2 separate regions of the Homo sapiens genome follow, and region 2 is linked to region 1. The links come from fine-mapping of genetic effects on gene expression. Tissue or cell type: skeletal muscle. Region 1 holds a variant in brackets; the other region holds the start of a gene. All regions are shown on one strand. Distances are from middle to middle.

Region 1 (8,112 bases):
TTTACCTAAGCAAGCCTGGGCAATGGCGGGCGCCCCTCCCCCAGCCTCGCTGCCACCTTGCAGTTTGATCTCAAACTGCTGTGCTAGCAATCAGCGAGACTCCGTGGGCGTAGGACCCTCCGAGCCAGGTGCGGGATATAATCTTGTGGTGCCCCATTTTTTAAGCCAGTCGGAAAAGCGCAGTATTCGGGTGGGAGTGACCCGATTTTCCAGGTGCGTCCGTCACCCCTTTCTTTGACTCGGAAAGGGAACTCCCTGACCCCTTGCGCTTCCCAAGTGGGGCAATGCCTCGCCCTGCTTCGGCTCGCGCACGGTGCGCGCACCCACTGACCTGCACCCACTATCTGGCACTCCCTAGTGAGATGAACCCGGTACCTCAGATGGAAATGCAGAAATCACCATCTTCTGCGTCGCTCACGCTGGGAGCTGTAGACCGGAGCTGTTCCTATTCGGCCATCTTGGCTCCTGTCCCTGATAGCTTTTTCATAACGTTAAAAGTGAGTATGTAAAATGATTTGAATCACACTTTTAAAACCAAAGATAAAGGCTAAGACAAGATTTTCCAGATACTTGGTAAGATTTGGGGAAAAAAATTTCTGCAAACAAATTTTAAAAATCCATACTGGAGAAAAAATGAGGTAATATAATGAATACTAAAGTCATGTTTTAAGGAATGTTTTATCTGGAGTTTACCATCTTATAACAAATATTTTTGAAGCTGAAGTTAACACCTGTAATGGTATCTGTAGGTCAGTGGACTGATTCAGAGGCAAAGGGCTGTTTTGCTTAAATATCATGCCACCTAATTAGACTCTACACTTTTTAATTTAAAAAATTCTAGTTTCTTTTTAGTTAGAATTAAAATGAACATGAAAATTGATAAGCAAATATATAAAAGAGCTATAATATGTAACTGCTTCTTATCAGTCACTGGTTATTTATTAAATATTTATTTGTGTCCACAGTTGTGCCAAGTTCTAAGGAAATGTGAATGAAATATGAAAACATGATTTTAAACTTTAATAGACTTTCTGTTAATTAGGGGGAGGGATGCAAAACAACAATTTTGTTTTGTTCTGTTTTGAGACAAAGTCTCACTTGTTGCCCAGGCTGGAGTGCAGCAGCGCCATGATGGCTCACTGCAGCCTCGTCGGGTGATCCTCGCACCTCAGCCTCTCGAGTAGCTGGGACCACAGGCATGAACACCATGCTCAGCTCATTTTTGTATCTTTTGTAGAGACAGGGTTTTGCTGTGTTGCCCAGGCTGGTATCGAACTACTCGGCTCAAGCAAACCACCTACTTCAGCCTCCCAAAATGTTGGGATTACAGGTGTGAGCCACTGCACCCGGCAAAAACAACAGTTCTGACTATATCATTTCAAAAATTTCCAGTGACCCCCTCTTTTAACCAGTGATACCATTACATGGTATTTAAGGACTTCCTCCATGTACACTATCCCACAGTTCTCCTCCAGACACTCTAAAGCACAGTTAGACGACAGTGGCTCATTAGTCCTTGATAGTGCCCTCACCAGACTCCACGCCTGTGTCAGGCAGTGCCTGCCAGAGTGCTCTCTCTCTCGGTATCAGAATCTTCTACCTCAGTTAAATGAATCATTATTTCTTCCTCATTCCCTTCGTGGTAGAAGTAAGCCTTCCCTTGTCTGAATTCTTTTAGCTGTCTTTATTTCTCATGGTACTTTTTAAACTCAAAACACTACTATAACTATTTGTCTATATTTCTTATTTGCTCAACTAATATTACCTTAAGGGTTTTGTAATAGCATACTTGTCTATATATCTCCATATATGTTGCTTAACTCAGTTTCTGATTTATAATATGTATTTAAACATGTAGTAGTTGAATGAATGCACATTTGAAATAATTAGGCAATAACTAAGAATAATAATTGTGTGGCACTAAATGCAGATAACAAGAGAGTAAAAGGAATTTGAAGGAGAGGGTTAAATCACTTGAAAGTGGGCTATAATAGTCTAAGCAGACTAAATGGAGGATTTAAGCTTGGTTTGGATCTTTAGGGCTGATGGTGCAAATTGGAACCAGAGTGGCTAAGAACAAATAGAAGTAGGAGTGTGGCTGCCAGATTAGAAGAGGAGAAGAAAGAAAACAAAAGGTAAGGATACAAGAGGAAAGTTTCGGGAATTACCTAATGATATGGCTAGGCAGGAAACACGCAGGCCATAAGACCAGACTTGATTAGCTGGAAGCCCAGAAAGTAAGCTCTGCTTTCAGGATTCAGGCTGTTTGTAGAGAAGTAACATGTTCAAGAGAAAAAGAATGGAGTTTTGTGTTTAAAAAGGGCTGGATCTGATATCAGTTTCACTATCGTTTTTGTTAGGCATGGGATTCACTAATCCTGCGTTTTCTCATCAATAAAATGGGAGTTATAACTCCCACACAATTTGGTTGTTATGGGGGTTAATTAAGATACTATGTGGGAAGTTCTTGACACAGAGCTCTCAGTAAAAGATGACCATCATTAATGTTTGCTATGGGCTCCAATTTGAACACTTGTTAGGTATGTTGTCTCCAGTCCATTAGCAGCCAGATGGTCTCTGGGACTTGTCCTGTTCCTGATTATTGCAGAAAAAGCCTTTCTCAAATTAAGATGGAGATCCTGATAGAAATGATCATGATGATGATGATGACGATGAAAATTATAACAGAACTTATAGTAGCTAATATTAATTGAGTGCTTATTATGTGATAGGAACCATGTTAATTGTCTCATAAGAATTACAGCATTTAATCCTAACAAAAATGTGTATTGTAAATGAAACAACTGGGACTGATTTTTGAGCATTGTAGCAGGGGTCCTTTGGAACAAAATGTGTCTAGATCCCAGGAATCCCAGTCACTAGAAATACAGTGGAAGCCAGAACAGGGAGGCCAGGCGCAGGGAAAAGGCCCCTAGATGAAGAGACTTACCCCACCATGGAATCCAAGACAGTAGTCAAAAGGGGTAGGAGTCTCAGATCTGACCAAGGAGGGGCTTTCTACCAGGGACTCTGATCCAGCAAGCAGGCCAGGGTATGGGGGAGCCCAGGCAGCAGGCACTGCTTTAGGCAGGTGGTGGAACTGTGATTCCAAGCAGGGGCCTTCTCAGCAGCAGGAGATTACAGGAAGCAAGATACTGCCTCCCTGGGGAAAGAGTTTAGCAAGAGCTACGCATGATAAGGACACCATCTCATGAACTAGGGCAAAAATGTCAAAAATCTGTGTCTCTTGTACAATTTGAGCAAGGAAATGGCCCCCGGAAGCCTGTGTTTGAGACCCAATCTAGGCCTAACAAGGAAGAATATTGTGATTGATTAGCGAAGTCTGCCTCTAGTGCTAGGGAAAGAAGCGACAATATACTGCTTGTGAATCTTGGCTGTCCTAGAACAACCTGGAAGACTTGAAGAAAAAAGGAGAGAGATTGATATAAAAGGGGATTATTGTGAAGGGACTATGCAAAGCTTTTAGAGGCTGCAGGGAAGGAGAAAAGGTAATTTTGAGCCTGTCAATTCTGCTGAAAACTGAACAGAAGGATCATGCCTGTGACAATTCTGTATACCCCCTTTCCCCAAGCTGTGGCCTTCTTAAGTACTGAGAATAGTGTCCTGGTGCCCCAGCTGCCCATGTGCTCCCAAAGTAAAGGCTTGGGATCCAATGCGCCATGTTTCCAATCTGCTATTTTTAAAGACTCATGAGTTTCTCAGAAAAATCCAATATGTATCTCAGAAGAAATCACATTGAGAAACAAAATATAGAAGTGGGCAAAAAAGATATACACATATTAAATTTATTATTTTTATAATAATATTAACTGGTGCTATTGTTTTGAAATAAAAAAAGAACAATTGTATTTTGCATAAAACCCTCTTTTGAGAAATATATTTAAGTTTCAATGTTTTCTATTTATTTGCTTACATAAGAAAGGACACAAATGCCAGCAAAAAGGAAATATCTCAAAAACCTTTCAACATATATTATAGCAAATTATTCTTTTTTTAAGTGAGGAAGAGGGAGATGGTTATTTGAACATTTTTCCTTCTTGAAACTACATTCCTGTGGTATTACTCAAATTAAATCTCTCAGTCATATTGAAAGTGGAAAGAGAAAAAGACTATATTAAAACCAAACAAAATGAATCTGGATCTTTTCATTATATTTTTCTATGTTTGTAACTGCCCAACCTGTTCTGTTTGTGAAAATATACAAATATAACTCTCCACAAAAAGAAACACTGGTCAGTCTTACCAGCCCTGTTTTTAAAAGTAGACTTTTTTTTGAGGGACCAAGAGTAAGGTGACTATATGTAGAAATGCCTATTTGAAAACCCTTCTTTTATTCATATAGTAACCTCTCAATTTATGTCTTACATGCTTTTTTTGAAAAAAGACAAAGTTGTGTCAGAAAATATCGTTAGAATGATTGTATAGATTTCCAAATTGTGTCTTTTGCTTTAACAACTCATTTTTGAATTGTGGGATTACTTAACGTAACAGAACTCTCATCATGCACAGAGCAACAAGCATGATATATTATCTACAAAGTGAGTTTACAAATAGAAGGTAACAAAGATGTAAAAAAGTAATATCTCTTGTCTTCATCGTTTGTGCATGTAAATACATGTATATATACAGTTCACTTTTTAATTTACTCATTCATTTAAAAAGCATTTTTAGTGGGCTGCCTAAAGATATGTGTACTGGAACCTGTGAATGTGGCCTTCTTTGGAAAAAGGGTCTTTGCAGCAGACATAGTTAAGAGTCTTGAGATAACATCATCCTGGATTACATCTGGGCCCTAAATCCAACAACAAGTGTCTTTATAAAAGGCAGAAGAGAAGACAGAGAGACAGAGAGAGACAGAGAGAGAGAGAGAGAG[AGG/G]GAGAGAGGGAAGAGAAGCCTGTGTGAAGATGCAGGCAGTGACTGGAGGTGTGCAGTCACAAACCAAGGAACAGCAGGTGCTGTGAGAAGCTGGCAGAGGCAAGCAAGTATTCTCCCCTAGACAGAGAGTGGGAGACCCTTGAGAGCCTTGACTTCCTACTTCTAGCCTCCCGAACTAGGAGAGAATCAATTTGTGTTGTTACCAGTTTGTGGTAATTTGTTACAGCAGCCCTAGGAAACTAATACAGTGTCTTTCAGCACCTTCATGTGCCACGTATACTGTCAGGCAAGAACACATCTGTGATAAGATATCATGTTGCCCTTGAAAGGATCACAATCCAGTGCATGAAACAGGCATTTAACAATGAGTATTCTAGGTGTTGTTTAGACTAAGAGGCAGTGGGGGTCTGGAACAGGAGTCTCATTTACTGGGAGCCTTCAACTGTGCATGAGCGCACTGTAAAGGGCTCAGGTACCTAAATACTCCAAGATGCCTGGAAGTACTAGGGGAAACTTCCCAGCAGAAACAGTGTTCTAGCCAGACTTGAAGTATGAACAGAAATTTTCATGATGAAATATTGGAAAGCAGGCCATGTAGGAGATATCAAGCAGAAGAAATTGGAAGTATAAAAGGCAAAAAATGTCACAAAGCAAAATAGAAAAGTTTCAGTTTGGCACAAGATGAAGCTAAAAATGCATTCATTGAATCCAAATTGTAAAAGGCATACTTTCCCTGCTGACAAGTTATGCTGTTAAGTGAAGGCGGATCTGGCTGTTCACTAGGATGTCAAGGTGATGAAGAGATGGGGTGGGGAGAAAATGGAGAACTATAACCTATGAAAGGGTATGATTTGAGGCCAGGGGCAGTGGTTCATGCCTGTAATCCCAACACTTTGGGAGGATGAGGTGGTTGGATCATTTGAGGTCAGGAGTTCAAGACCAGCCTGGCCAACATGGTGAAACCCCATCTCTACTAAAAATACAAAAATTAGCAGGTTGTGGTGGTGTGTGCCTGTAGTCCCAGCTACTTGGGAGGCTGAAGTAGGAGAATCGCTTGAATCCAGGAGGTGGAGGTTGCAGTGAGCCAAGATTGCACAACTGCACCCCAGCCTGGGTGGCAGAGCAAGACTACATTTCAAATAAAAAATAAAAAATAAAAAGTAAAGAAAGAAAGAAAAGAAAAGGAAGAAAAAGAAAAAAAGAGAAAGAACATCATCTGAGCTGATTTTAGGAAATCACTCTACTCTGGTGGTATTTTTCTTTTAGTTAATAATGTATGTTTTTACCCATTATTTTCCCTCTTCCCTTCCCCTATTCATATAGGTAAGAGGTTCACATGTTCCTTGCCTTGAGGAGAGTTTGAGACATGACTTCCTGGCTTTTGTTTTTAAAACCCTAAATTCACTGAAAGAATAGTTTGAGGAGGTGGTTCTTGGACAACAAGACATACAAAGAGAAAAAGAGAGAGAGAGAAGGAGAGAGAGATTTCCCAGGCTAAAAAGAAAGTTTTCTTCTGGATTGAGAACTAGATTGAGGCTGATGGTTTGAGAGCAGTACAGATAAATGGACATATGCTGCATGTGACATGCAGGATCCTAGGCTTGTGGCTGTAGCTCATTGAAGATATTGTATGCCAAGAGAGGCGAGGAGCAGCAGAGCATCAAATTGAAGGATCTCTGCAGCTCTACAGGCTGGGGCTACAATCTTAGCAGAAATCAGTGTAGCCTCATGACCGATGACTTGAGGGACTTCCCAAAACTTGATACTCCCCTAGACACTCAGCACAATCACAGCCGGGGAAGTGGCTGCTAAGAATGAGTGAAGTTGAACTTTCCACCAGTTCAACTAGATAGAAACTTGACATCTAATTTAAATAAAAGAACAGAATATGGTATTTTACTGAGTCTCTAAGATACATATCCACTAATGAAAGTAGTGTCATGGCAGTGATACTACTTGTATTTAATATCTCTTCTTTCTTTTTTAATAAGAGAACTCCTGAGTGTTAGCTGGGACCATGGTTGTACAGAATGAAAAGTCCATTTCCCAGCCCCCATTGTAGACTAAGCTCTGGGGTTTGAGTAATGTGCTGCTTATGGCTCATGTTTTTCAAGGAAAAGGGTGTACTCTTTCCTTCTGCTTTTCTCCCTTCCAACAAATTAGAGTAAGAGCAAAGTAGTGAGCCCTCTCAGATAAGCATGATTCGAGGAGTAGTAGATCCACAAGAGAGAAGGACTTCAGACCCCTGGCAACTTTACAGAAGGAACTTCCCATTCAAGTAGGAATTTACATGGAACAGAAATAAGCTTCTGTCTTGTGGACCAACATTTTTCATGTCCTTGTCAAATAAGCTGAACTAACATTCCACTAATACCAGTCTATGAAAGGAACTGGAATTGGAAGAGATTGCTGGTGGGGAACATTTTTGAAAATCCAACTTCTGGCCCTGGACATGATGGAAGGAATAGATATTAGACTTATTCTCCCACTTTTACATATGTGAGACTGTATAAGATATATTAATCAAGTTTTTCCAGGCTTTGGTCAACAGACAGCCAAGGGCTATAATCCTTGAGAGAGACATAAAGCATAGGTGGATGCCTTACTTACTATAGTTTACTATCTGAGAGTAATTTCCAAACTGTGACCCCAAAAAGTGGAGTTTAAGCAGACAGCAACAGTCTTGCTGGCCATATAAAAGGGAGATTGAAATTTAGGACTACTGAAGGAGCTGAAATTTGCATCTCAGGTTACCAGAAATAAAGGAGCTTAGCAGACAAGAGTCCCCAGGAATCTGCATCAATATCCTCTGTTAAGTCTTTGACTGAATGCCTGTGCATGCATATGGTACAATTCAAAGAGGCCTAGGAAAAAGCAGATACTTTGGGCTGCTTTTTGTGGCTTAAATGGAAATACTAGAGAATACATAGTGCTGAGAGACAGGGGAATGCCAACAACCCAAAATTGAGGCCCCAGAAAGATCATGATTTAGGAGTAGGGACTACTCTAGCCCTGGCATAAGTGTACTCTAGGCCTACTCTAACAAAGCTGAAAACCAAGCCCCTCAGCAGAATCAAGCTGAGCTGCCAGTAACTTAATCCTCTGCCAGAATAAGATCCAATATTCTTCATAGGAAGACAAATAAATTCAGAAGCTCAACAATATAGCATCCCATGTCAGGCTTAAAAATTAAAAATTACTAGCCGTATGGAGAAT
Region 2 (8,112 bases), 92 kb before region 1:
CCCTACCAATTAAAGGACTCTGCAGTGCCACATGTAAACAGCTATCTGACAGTATTGAATCAGCTGTAATAGGACAGCCAGTGACCTTATCACTGATGGAATTGGTCAACAACTGATAAAACTGTCCACTTTTGTCTGTGAGTTAGCAAAAATACCAGAGCTCAATGTGCTACAGTGTTTGTTTTTATTATATCATTCTAGACTGTACCCAAATGATCCAAATGATTTTACTCTGTGTATATGTCTGCCTTAAAAGAGAACTTAGAAATAAACCTTATTTCCCTAAAAACAAACTTCTTATAGTAAGCAGTCTTTTTGACTGAATTTCAGTGAGAGTTGAATTTAGGTGTTTTATAGTTAAAATTTGATCTCCTTTAAATTATAATAGAAATTAAACTGAAGAAAAATGAATTTCTATATTTACCTGAACTGGAAATCGTTTTAAATGAGGATAAAAGTAGGCATGCTTGTAAAGATAATATCGTGGCCTGTACTTAAAGACCTGCAAAAACAAAATAAATGATATATTCATGTTTAATATGCAATAAATATACAGCAAGTATAATCAGGCCAAGGAAGTATGCTAAAATTAATTACCCCATTTTCTTCAGAATCCTCTATTTTGACTCTTCGATGCAAATTTTTCATCTGTTTTAAAGAACATTTAATTATTGCATAATTTTTCTTTTACATAAAAAGACAAAACTGAAAATAACTGTGGGTTTTGATAAAGAACTTACTGAGAAAGCACAGGCCATTCCCAAAATGCTGAGCAAAATTAAAGCAGTCTTCATTTTGGTGATTGCTTCTGGAATTAATGAAGTGGTAAGGTTAATAAAATATTAAAACTAAGAGCATAACTTTTTTACTCATATTCAAAGATGAAGTATTTAATTTGTTTTCATTTCTGTGTAATTATCACTTTGACTAATTAAAACTAAATTATTCCTTTTATTTTCAAATTATTCCTTCCATTTAAGTAATATAAGACTGACTTAACCCATCCGTTTAAATAATCTTGAGTTCCATACTTGGTTTTAACCTATTTTTTGTGATTTCTCAATGGAAGACCTTTTCATTACTGCAAGAGATTTTGACTACTTAGGGTACTTCACACTGGCGTAATGGCCCTCTTAATATTGACATGGAGTGTCAGCTAAGTGAATTGAATTGTTAGTGTAGTTGTGTGCCCTGTTTGTTTGTTTACAATTAAAAACTCGACCAGGTATGGTGGCTCATGCCTCTAAAACCAGTACTTTGGGAGGCCAAGGTGGGCAGATCGCTTGAGTCCAAGAGTTTGAGATGAGCCTGGGCAACATGGTGAAACTTGTCCTCTACAAACAGTGCAGAAATTAGCTTGGCATGGTGGTGCACACCAGTAGGCCTAGTTACTCGAGAGGCTGAGCCTGGGAGGCCAAGGTTGCAGTGAGCCGTGTTCATACCACTGTACTCCACCCTGGGCAACAGAGTGAGATCCTGTCTCAAAAATAAAACAAAAAAGCAAAAATCACTGATACCCTATAGGCGGTTTCCAGCTTCTATATAGGTTTTGGGCTAAAAATTTATTTGTAAAATGGAAAGTAGGAGCAATTTTCCTCTGAACATCTTGGAATAATTGGTGTGTGTGTGTGTGTATATGCGTGTGTGTGTGTGTGTGTGTGTGTGTGTGTGTGTATGGGTGGGTGGATGAGAGACAGAGACAGAGAGACAGAGAGGATCCATAATATATGAAATATCACACTGACATCATGTAGCACGCAACAGCAACTCCGCTAAGGATGCTTCCATGAGGAGTTCTTCAGAGTTTCGCCTTGAGATATCGGGGGCAGATTTCCTCAAATTAATTTGCTCTCCAGCTCCATTTAAGCTTTCCATCTGCTAGTGTATGAGACTGTACTGGGATGGATTAGGGGCTCTCCAGGGTTAGGGTGACAGACATGGATGAAAATTTCAATTCTATGGAACAATCGAAGATGCAGCTCTCAAAGTGGGAATAGGGCCTGAATAATCTTGGGGATTGCAGCCATAAAAAGAGCCTCAGTTCCACATAAATTCCTCATGAGTAAAAGGAGATAGTGAAATGCTATCCTATCTTAATTTTATTCTATTTAATAAAATTGTATTTAAAATTATATCATAATAGAAGTTGGGCAAGCTTAGCTGAAAGCCTACTAACACTCAGCCATTTACATTTACATACACATTTAACTGTTAGCACCTTCTCATACACAGTCACAGCTTTGGCAATATTTTGGAAGCAAAATGTAGTGGTGATGGCAATTTCCCATGAATACATTTTGAAAATAATACTTAAAATGTGCAAACCAATGTCATATATTGAAACCTGCTGGTAAATTGTGTATTGTGTCATCATCAGCCAAGATTTATTGCATCCTTACTGAGTATCTGACACTAAGTCCTGGAGATACTGTCTTGGGTCCTAAGTCACACTCTTTTTGTGTGTCAGAGTGAGTCTTTGGGTTTTGGTGCCCAGACAGTTTCTCACAGTCCTATCTTAGTAAAAGGTCTTGATGGCCCCTTGGGAATAAACAGGCTTTGCTCCTGAAGGAGCCCATCTTTTTAAGCAGCACTGATTTCTATCGGGGTGGTCTAAATAATGCTTTGAACTTTGCCAGCCGTGACCAAGCCCATCAGCAAAACAGAAAGATTATTGCTTTGCCACTTTGTGAGAAGGGTCGGAATATTTATAATATTTTAAAGAGCTAAAAGCTTAGATACATAGAATTATAGAAATAGTTTTGATTACACAAATTTCTCATAACAATAAAAATAACCAGATGAAAAGATGGCATAAATAATAATAATAACAATACAAAGAACCAAGTAGTTCTTGTAGTCAGGATTGGCTGCCTATATAAATCTAATTTTATTTACTTTGTGAGTCAACAAAAAGCCAAGACCTCTATAGTGACCACTACTAACCCAGACAACAATTCAAACATTCTTAAAGGAGAATTTTGAGGATTTAATTTCAAGTTTTATTGGGAAGGGTATGATAAACTACCAAGAGTATTTATTTCTCTAGTTAGTACAATATATTTTCTGTTCTGACTTTAGAGCTATAGGAAACATCAAAACCTAATGTTTAATATGTTGAAAAGACAACATATGTACTTGAAGTACAGACTAGGTATAATTTGTAGAGAAATATGCATATATCTAGCCAGATTTGCAAATGCAAAATAGTATTTCAATCAGGTTATCTTGAATGCATCAGAATGAGAAAACAAACAGTTAAGCTATGATTTGCAGAGAATGAAAGTAAGAAGCATAATGTAGTTTATGTGCATAGTATTAAGAACTTATTTACATGCTTAGGTTAATAAGTTTAGCCTTTTGGAAAGAATTTAAAATCTGAAGTGCCAGTTTAATGATAAATAATTATTAAACCATGTACAATGCAATAACATCATTTAAATGAAAAATTCAAAGCCAAGTTCAGAGATGTAAACTATGGAGTGTCTAATTTTATGATAATGAAGTTGTTCTATTAAATCTTACCCTCTGGCAGTCCTGGAGTGAGGAAGCAGGCTCAAGGCAGTGAGTGGCACAGATTGAGTATTTCCTCTGCCCTCTCACTCACTCATTCACTTGCTCTTGCTGGCTATAAACTCTTCTTTGCCTTCCAACAGCCAATCACTGTCACGACCAAGGTGATGTCAGAACGTGGATTCTCACCAGAAAACCCCCAAACTTCAACACTTTTTCAAGACACAGGCTCAGTTGAATAAACAAGAAACGTGATTCTAGAGCCAAGAGGTTTGCATTGTGGAATTTAATTGAAGGTTTAGATGAAGATGAATAGTTTGGGCTCCGAATATGTATAATAATATACTGGATTTGAATTAAAATAAATAACAAAGGCTTTAACCTTTTAAAAATTTCATAATTATACAAGTTTTCACTATGTCGAAAGAAAGGAAAGCTTGCTGTCATTAGATATAATTTTACATTAGTTTAGCTAAAAAAAGAAAGAAAAACTAAATAATAAGGGAAAGGAGCAGATGAACCATCAATATTTTAATATCATTTGATGTTTCCTCCTGAAATATACTTCATTGACTCATAAATTAAAGTTGATATGATTAAGTCGGTCAGACTTTGTAAGATATAGTTGCTAAAACATGATGCTGAGTATAAAAGTTAGAACTTTTGAGAATCATACCACTGAGAGGCAGATTTTATATTTTGTTTTGTAAATTAAATCTCTGTATATTGTCCATTTATGTGGCCCTTCCTGTCGTGCATGTGAGGTCAGCTCATTTTTTTCTTGGGCTTCTATATATATCTTTTCTATTCATTTTCATATTTAATTTTTTTCCTATGAGAATAACAAAATGACTAGAGCTAGCAGGAGTGATCCATTGTTTTTGAAATGATTCATGAAACCAACACCACAAAGAATGGATTGATAAACTAAAGTACTAATTTTTTAATTTACAAAGGGAAATCTAGCTTAATAGTTTGCATATTCTCCTAGTCTAGTCATTTTATTCTTCCTCCAGTTGCGAAGTCTGCTTGAGAAATCAAAAATTAATGAATATCATTTTTTTTCTTTTTTTCTCTTAATTTTTTTTATTATTATACTTTAAGTTTTAGGGTACATGTGCACATTGTGCAGGTTAGTTACATACGTATACATGTGCCATGCTGGTGTGCTGCACCCACTAACTCATCATCTAGCATTAGGTATATCTCCCAATGCTATCCCTCCCCACTCCCCCCACCCCACAACAGTCCCCAGAGTGTGATGTTCCCCTTCCTGTGTCCATGTGATCTCATTGTTCAATTCCCACCTATGAGTGAGAATATGTGGTGTTTGGTTTTTTGTTCTTGTGATAGTTTACTGAGAATGATGGTTTCCAATTTCATACATGTCCCCACAAAGGACATGAACTCATCATTTTTTATGGCTGCATAGTATTCCATGGTGTATATGTGCCACATTTTCTTAATCCAATCTATCATTGTTGGACATTTGGGTTGGTTCCAAGTCTTTGCTATTGTGAATAATGCCGCAATAAACATACGTGTGCATGTGTCTTTATAGCAGCATGATTTATAGTCCTTTGGGTATATACCCAGTAATGGGATTGCTGGGTCAAATGGTATTTCTAGTTCTAGATCCCTGAGGAATTGCCACACTGACTTCCACAATGGTTGAACTAGTTTACAGTCCCACCAACAGCGTAAAAGTGTTCCTATTTCTCCACATCCTCTCCAGCACCTGTTGTTTCCTGACTTTTTAATGATTGCCATTCTAACTGGTGTGAGATGGTATCTCATAGTGGTTTTGATTTGCATTTCTCTGATGGCCAGTGATGGTGAGCATTTTTTCATGTGTTTTTTGGCTGCATAAATGTCTTCTTTTGAGAAGGGTCTGTTCAAGTCCTTTGCCCACTTTTTGATGGGGTTGTTTGTTTTTTTCTTGTAAATTTGTTTGAGTTCATTGTAGATTCTGGATATTAGCCCTTTGTCAGATGAGTAGGTTGCGAAAATTTTCTCCCATTTTGTAGGTTGCCTGTTCACTCTGATGGTAGTTTCTTTTGCTGTGCAGAAGCTCTTTAGTTTAATTAGATCCCATTTGTCAATTTTGTCTTTTGTTGCCTTGCTTTTGGTGTTTTAGACATGAAGTCCTTGCCCATGCCTATGTCCTGAATGGTAATGCCTAGGTTTTCTTCTAGGGTTTTTATGGTTTTAGGTCTAACGTTTAAGTCTTTAATCCATCTTGAATTGATTTTTGTATAAGGTGTAAGGAAGGGATCCAGTTTCAGCTTTCTACATATGGCTAGCCAGTTTTCCCAGCACCATTTATTAAATAGGGAATCCTTTCCCCATTGCTTGTTTTTCTCAGGTTTGTCAAAGATCAGATAGTTGTAGATATGTGGCGTTATTTCTGAGGGCTCTGTTCTGTTCCATTGATCTATATCTCTGTTTTGGTACCAGTACCATGCTGTTTTGGTTACTGTAGCCTTGTAGTATAGTTTGAAGTCAGGTAGTGTGATGCCTCCAGCTTTGTTCTTTTGGCTTAGGATTGCCTTGGTGATGCGGGCTCTTTTTTGGTTCCATATGAACTTGAAAGTAGTTTTTTCCAATTCTGTGAAGAAAGGCATTGGTAGCTTGATGGGGATGGCATTGAATCTGTAAATTACCTTGGGCAGTATGGCTATTTTCACGATATTGATTCTTCCTACCATGAGCATGGAATGTTCTTCCATTTGTTTGTATCCTCTTTTATTTCCTTGAGCAGCGGTTTGTAGTTCTCCTTGAAGAGGTCCTTCACATCCCTTGTAAGTTGGATTCCTAGGTATTTTATTCTCTTTGAAGCAATTGTGAATGGGAGTTCACTCATGATTTGGCTCTCTGTTTGTCTGTTGTTGGTGTATAGGAATGCTTGTGATTTTTGCACATTGATTTTGTATCCTGAGACTTTGCTGAAGTTGCTTATCAGCTTAAAGAGATTTTGGGCTGAGACAATGGGGTTTTCTAGATATACAATCATGTCATCTGCAAACAGGGACAATTTGACTTCCTCTTTTCCTAATTGAATACCCTTTATTTCCTTCTCCTGCCTGATTGCCCTGGCCAGAACTTCCAACACTATGTTGAATAGGAGTGGTGAGAGAGGGCATCCCTGTCTTGTGCCAGTTTTCAAAGGGAATGCTTCCAGTTTTTGCCCATTCAGTATGATATTGGCTGTGGGTTTGTCATAGATAGCTCTTATTATTTTGAAATATGTCCCATCAATACCTAATTTATTGAGAGTTTTTAGCATGAAAGGTTGTTGAATTTTGTCAAAGGCCTTTTCTGCATCTATTGAGATAATCATGTGGTTTTTGTCTTTGGCTCTGTTTATATGCTGGATTACATTTATTGATTTGCGTATATTGAACCAGCCTTGCATCCCAGGGATGAAGTCGACTTGATCATGGTGGATAAGCTTTTTGATGTGCTGCTGGATTTGGTTTGCCAGTATTTTATTGAGGATTTTTGCATCAATGTTCATCAAGGATATTGGTCTAAAATTCTCTTTTTTGGTTGTGTCTCTGCCAGGCTTTGGTATCAGAATGATGCTGGCCTCATAAAAAGAGTTAGGGAGGATTCCTTCTTTTTCTATTGATTGGAATAGTTTCAGAAGGAATGGTACCAGTTCCTCCTTGTACCTCTGGTAGAATTCGGCTGTGAATCCATCTGGTCCTGGACTCTTTTTGGTTGGTAAGCTATTGATTATTGCCACAATTTCAGATCCTGTTATTGGTCTATTCAGAGATTCAACTTCTTCCTGGTTTAGTCTTGGGAGAGTGTATGTGTCAAGGAATTTATCCATTTCTTCTAGATTTTCTAGTTTATTTGCATAGAGGTGTTTGTAGTATTCTCTGATGGTAGTTTGTATTTCTGTGGGATCGTTGGTGATATCCCCTTTATCATTTTTTATTGCGTCTATTTGATTCTTCTCTCTTTTCTTCTTTATTAGTCTTGCTAGCGGTCTATCAATTTTGTTGATCCTTTCAAAAAACCAGCTCCTGGATTCATTAATTTTTTGAAGAGTTTTTTGTGTCTCTATTTCCTTCAGTTCTGCTCTGATTTTAGTTATTTTTTGCCTTCTGCTAGCTTTTGAATGTGTTTGCTCTTGCTTTTCTAGTTCTTTTAATTGTGACGTTAGGGTGTCAATTTTGGATCTTTCCTGCTTTCTTTTGTGGGCATTTAGTGCTATAAATTTCCCTCTACACACTGCTTTGAATGCGTCCTAGAGATTCTGGTATGTTGTGTCTTTGTTCTCATTGGTTTCAAAGAACATCTTTATTTCTGCCTTCATTTCATTATGTACCCAGTAGTCATTCAGGAGCAGGTTGTTCAGTTTCCATGTAGTTGAGCGGTTTGGGTGAGATTCTTAATCCTGAGTTCTAGTTTGATTGCACTGTGGTCTGAGAGATAGTTTGTTATAATTTCTGTTCTTTTACATTTGCTGAGGAGAGCTTTACTTCCAAGTATGTGGTCAATTTTGGAATAGGTGTGGTGTGGTGCTGAAAAAAATGTATATTCTGTTGATTTAGATTCTTTGGATAAGTCATCTTTTCTTTCATAAAAGTT

The links. PIP is the estimated chance that this variant, and not a neighbour inherited with it, causes the effect.
Region 2: it holds the start of IBSP, and the variant in region 1 is fine-mapped to the expression of IBSP in skeletal muscle (FUSION, PIP 0.95).

Annotation. Positions count from the first base shown.
Region 1 is chr4:87,702,734-87,710,845 of GRCh38, reverse strand. The region is part of intron 2 of DMP1-AS1 (DMP1 and DSPP antisense RNA 1); the gene reads left to right. Among named protein-coding and RNA genes, the nearest start is that of DMP1-AS1, 26 kb to the left of the region's middle. RefSeq lists an enhancer at 1-183. The variant AGG/G (reference allele first, on the strand shown) is at 4,895.
Region 2 is chr4:87,795,044-87,803,155 of GRCh38, reverse strand. IBSP (integrin binding sialoprotein) reads right to left here and starts at 3,602. Exons shown (of 7, transcript NM_004967.4): 1 at 3,523-3,602; 2 at 741-808; 3 at 598-648; 4 at 425-502. The coding sequence starts at 794. RefSeq lists cis regulatory regions at 3,797-3,803, 4,005-4,014, promoters at 3,454-3,927, 3,545-4,532, 3,545-8,112 and a silencer at 4,532-8,075.